Linked DNA regions of Homo sapiens: region 1 is linked to region 2. Evidence: fine-mapped expression QTL. A gene starts in region 2. The other region holds a variant in brackets. All regions are shown on one strand. Distances are between the middles of the regions.

The links. PIP is the estimated chance that this variant, and not a neighbour inherited with it, causes the effect.
Region 1: its variant is the best candidate, but not a certain one, in a credible set for the expression of TFDP2 in whole blood (TOPMed, PIP 0.55).

What each region holds. Positions count from the first base shown.
Region 1 is chr3:142,081,165-142,083,912 of GRCh38, forward strand. All of the region lies in intron 3 of TFDP2 (transcription factor Dp-2), which reads right to left. Among named protein-coding and RNA genes, the nearest start is that of TFDP2, 67 kb to the right of the region's middle. The variant C/T (reference allele first, on the strand shown) is at 1,475.
Region 2 is chr3:142,147,891-142,150,638 of GRCh38, forward strand. TFDP2 (transcription factor Dp-2) reads right to left here and starts at 1,654. Exons shown (of 13, transcript NM_001178139.2): 1 at 1,293-1,654. RefSeq lists silencers at 1,150-1,199, 1,430-1,499, 1,560-1,769, 1,880-1,929 and an enhancer at 1,299-1,799.

The DNA.
Region 1 (2,748 bases), 67 kb before region 2:
CATCAATAACAAGAGGAATTCTAGAAACTGTACAAAGATATGGAAACTGAACAATATGCTACCAGTTGACCAGAGGGTCAAAAAAGAAATTAGAAAGAAATTTAAAATGTACTTGAAACAAATGATAAAAGAAACACAACACACCAAAACCTATGGGATATAGTGAAAGAAGCACTAAGAGGGAAGTTGATGGTATAAGTGCTTATACATCAAAAAAGTGAAAAAACTTCAAATAGATAACCTAATGATGCATCTTAAAGAGCTAGAAAAGCAAGAGCAAACCAAACCTAAAATTTGTAGAAGAAAAGAAAGAATAAGGATCAGAGCAGAAATAAAACAAATTGAAACACAGGAAACAATGCAAAAGATCAATGAAACAAAAAGTTGGTTTTCTGAAAAGATAATATTGACAAACCTTTAGTCAGACTAAGAAAAAAAGAGAGAAGACCCAAATAAATAAAATCAGAGACAAAAAAGGAGACATTAAAATTGATACCACGGAAATTCATTAGTGGCTACTAGGAGCAACATGGCTACTATATGCCAATAAATTGGAAAACCTAGAAGAAATGGATAAATTCCCAGACACATACAACCTACCAACACTGAACCATAAAGTAATCCAAAACCTGAACAGACCAATAACAAGTAACAAGATTGAAGCAGTAATAAAAAGGCTTTCAGTAAAGAAAAGCCCAGCACCTGACAACTTCACTGCTAAATCTTACCAAATATTTAAAGAAGAACTGATATCCATCTTACTCAAACTATTCCAAAAAGTACAGCAGGGGTCCCAAACCCCTGGGCCACAGACTGGTACTGGTCCGTGGCCTGTTAGAAACCAGGATGCACTGCAGGAGGTGAGTGGCGGGCGAGTGAAAGCAGCTTCATCTGTATTTACAGATGCTCCCCACTGCTTGCATTACCACCTGACCTCCACCTCTGTCAGATTAGCCACGACATTAGAGTCTCACAGGAGTGCAAACCCTGTTGTGAACTGTGCATGTGAGGGATCTAAGTTGTGTGCTCCTTGTGAGAATCTCATGCCTGATGATGATCTGTCACTGACTCCCGTCACCCCAAGATGGGACCACCTAGTTGCAGGAAAACAAGCTCAGGGCTCCCACTGATTCTACATTATGGTGAGTTGTATAATTACTTCATTATATATCACAATGTAATAATATTAGAAATAAGGTGCACAACAAATGTAATACACTTGAATCATTCTGTAAACCATACCACCCCTCACCCCAGTCCATGGAAAAATTGTATTCCACAAAACCAATCCCTGGGGCCAAAAAGGTTGGGGACCATTGAAATGGAGGAGAGATGAATACTTCCAAATTCATTCTACAAGGCTTGTATCACCCAGATGCCAAAACCAGACAAAGAAACATCAAAAAAAGAAAACTACAGGCAAATATCCCTGATGTACACTGATGCAAAAACCCTCAACAAAATACTACTAAAC[C/T]GTATTCAACAACACATTAAAAAGATCATTGATCATGACCAAGTGGGATGTATCCCAGAGATGCAAAATGGCTCAATGAATGCAAGTCAATCAATGTAATATATCATTTCAATGAAATGAAAGACAAAAACAATATAATCATTTCAACTGATGCTGAAAAAGCATTTGATAAAATTCAACATCGCTTCATGATACAATCCCTAAAAAACTGGGTACAGAAGGAACGTACCTCAACATAATAAAAGGCATACATGACAGACCCACAGCTAGTAAAATACAGGATAGGAAAAAGTGAAAGCCTTTCCTATAAGATCTGGAACACAACAAGGAAGCCTACTTTCAACACTGTTATTCAGTATAGTACTGGAAGTCCTAGCTACAACATTCAGACAAGAGATAAAAATAAAGGGCCATTCAAATTAGAAAGGAAGAAGTCAAATTATCCCTGTTTGCAGATAATATATTACATTTTGAAAAATCTAGATTCCACAAAAAAACTATTAGAATTGCTAAGCAAATTCAGTAAAGTTGCAGGACACAAATCAACATACAAAAATCAGTAGCTTTCTAATGGCAACAGTGAACAATCTGAAAAAGTAATTAAAAGTAATCCCATTTATAGTAGATACAAATGAAATTAAATACCTAGGAATTAGTCAAAGAAATGAAAGATCCCTACAATAAAAACTATAAAATACTGATGAAAGAAATTAAAGAGGACACAAAAAATGGAAAGGTATTCCATATTCATAGACTAGAAGAATCAGTATTGTTAAAATGTCCACAGTACCCAAGGCAATCTTTAGATTCAATGCAATCCTATCAAAATACCAATGACATTCTTCACAGAAATAGAAAAAACAATCCTAAAATTTATATAGAGCCACAATAGACCCAGAATAGCCAAAGCTATCCTGAGCAAAAAGAACAAAACTGAAGGAATCACATTACCTGACTTCAAATTACACTACAGAGCTATAGTAAACAAAATGGCATGATACTGGCAAAAAAACAGACACATAGACCAATGGAACAGAATAGAGAACCCAGAAATAAATCCATACACCTAGAGTGAACTCATTTTCCACAAAGGTGCCAACAACATACACTGGAGAACAGACAGTTTCTTCAATAAACAGTGCTGGGAAAACTGGATATCCGTATGCAAAAGAATGAAACTAGACCCCTATCTCTCACCATATACAAAAATCAAATCAAAGTGGACTAAAGATTTAAATCTAAGACCTCAATCTATGAAACTACTACAAGAAAAC
Region 2 (2,748 bases):
ATAGTGATAAAGTTTAGCTAAATAACAGGCTAAACAATGAAATGGAAAAGGAAGCTGCAATATAGATCAATTAAACTATTTTTATATCTACTTTTAAAGAGAGACAGGGACATGATTATGCCATATAGAAAATAGATGAATATATATTCACGAGCTGAAAAAAAAAACAGGTAAATTATTTATTAGGTGAAGATAAATTCAAGCCATGAAGAGAAAACACATGGCCCAGAAAAAAAAAAAAGTAGGTTGTGCAAGTCAAATGAAAAGACACAAAACTCAGATCTCGGGGAGACAGGGGAAGGAGAAGGCTGAGCTAAAAGAGAGCCTTACTGAAAGAAAGCAAATAAGTGAGAGGGAGTCTGTGCCCTCTGAGATGGAATGAGGAAAAGATAAAAGTATTCATGGGCTCAAAGGCAGCTTCAGCAGTGAATATGGAAAAGGAATGAGCCCGTTCACTGTCTCAACACTAAAAGGGAAATAATATAGGGTCTTTTTCTAAACCAGCATCCATGGCAGTCAATAATAAAAGTGCCTAACTAATGCAAGGCATTTAATACGTGGAGGATTTTCTTACGATTGCATTCCATACATTAGTCCATTCACTCCCCGAAACACACCGAATAGGTGGATGCATCTAATTTACAGATGAAGAAACCGAGATCACACAATGGGAGATAGCACAGGCTGGTAAGAGAGACTGGGGCGCTCATCCACTTCGTTGTACTGTCTCTCAGCGAGATCCTAGGAAAACCCTTACACTTCTTTGTGAAGACAGACCTTGGCTTTCCAGATTTTCTCAAAGGAGTCTGGGCCCAAAAAGCGATCCTCTACTTCAGAGAAAAGTTCCTTTATGGGGCATATGAGGTTCTTCCAAGCACACAAAGCTTAGAAACTCTTTAAAAACAAACAAAACACCTGGTGGACACAGAGGCCTGTGAGTCATGAAAGGAGAAGGGAAAAATCGGAAAACCAGATTTAGAAGCCATCCTTCTTTGAAGAGAACGAGAAAGTAGAAAGCAGCCCTTCCCCTCTTCCACGAGGCGTGACTCAGGGACGTTACCTCCCCCGATTTGCTCTATGCACTAAGAGGGTGACCCTCCTCTGCTTTCGACTCTGGCCCAGACACTCACGGGTTACCCGGCCAGGCCTGGAGAACCCAGGTCTAAACAGATGGGACTCGTGGGGGAACAAGGGGGCCCCTGTGCGCAGGGAGGGAAACCTACCCAGGAACGCGCCCGGCCGGGTCCAAAGGCCCTCCGCGCGCGGGCCCGCGCCCTCGCCCCAGACCTTACCGCCTTCGGCTGCAGAAGAACTGGCGGCCAAGCGAGGCTGTCGGGCCGAGCCAGGAGCGCGTCTTCGGGCGCCGCCGCTTCTGTGGCGCCCGCGCTTAGGCGGCGGCCGGGTCCCGGTGGACTCACACCCGGGGAGACGCGGCCTGCCCGGTCAAGGCCCAGGAGTTTGAGGCCCCAGAACGCCAACCGTGCGCGCGCCCTCGAGCCTGCCCAAAGATGAAGGGTCAGGGCGCGCCCCGCGGGCCGGGCAGCTGCGGCAGCGCCGCAGCCGAGATCGCTACCGATTTCGTCCGCCCTCTCCCTGCCCAGCTACAGCCCCGCTTCCCCCGCGCGAGCTTTGGCGGCGGAGCAGCACAGTGCGCGCCGATTGGCCCTCAGAATGTGCGACGCCTGGCGCCGCTCCCCACGGATTGGCCGGGCCGGCAGTGCGTGCACGGAGTAAACAAACCCCGCCCCCAGGCTTCCCTTTGAGAGTAGGGGGCCAACAGATGGAGGGGCGGGACTCGTGCACTCAGCCACCGCCCCTTGGTTCCCCCTGTGGCCTCCCTGGGAGCCCTCCGCAGGACCCGACCACCCCGCTTCCCCGCCGCCTCCAGGGACAGCTGCGGGCCTGAGGCCTAGAATTTTAGACACACTTCCTTCATCACTCCTATCTCATCCCCCCTACTCCCACCCTGCGACTTGGGTGGGAATCTCTTTTCCAACTGACCCCGAAGCCAGAAAACCCCAGCTCTCTTGGAAGGAGGGGGACTGGGGCAGTTCCATTCGGTCCCCAGGCCTTTGCGGGGTCGCCCTGGGGGAGCATCAATAAGGGACAGGGGGGCGAGTGATCGTGATTGAGGCTATGCGTGGGGCCAACTGTGGGACACCTTGAAATTATTCAGACAATGAGTTAGAGACCACTGGGAATGTGGAGGTTCTTCAATATCAAGGCAAGTTAATACCCAAACCAGGACAGGTCATTCTGTCCCGCGGAAACTGCACACACCCCAAATACCCGTACACTTGGTTCCATATGAAAAGATTTTGTTCATTCGTTCGTGCCGAAGTTAAAAACCCCGTGTGAACAGCGCATTAAAACGATTAGATCTTTCTCATTTTACTCCAGTCAAATCTTATAGATCTTCTATATGCCACTTTGTTTGTTTTTGAGACGGGGTCTTGCTCTCACCGAGGCTGGAGTGCGGTGGCAGGATCACGGCTCATTGGAGCCCTGACTTCCCAGTCTCAGGTGATCCTACCACCACAGCCTCCCGAGTAGCTGGGACTACAGGCCCGCGCCACCACACCCGGCTGTTTCGCCATGTTTCCCAGGCTGGTTTGGAACTCCTGGACTCAAGAGATCCTCCCGCCTGGGCCTCCCAAAGTGGTGGGATTACAGGCGTGAGCCACCACGCCCGGCCCCAAACACTATTCTTGATATGGGGAGACATCAGTGGACAAAATAGAGACAAAA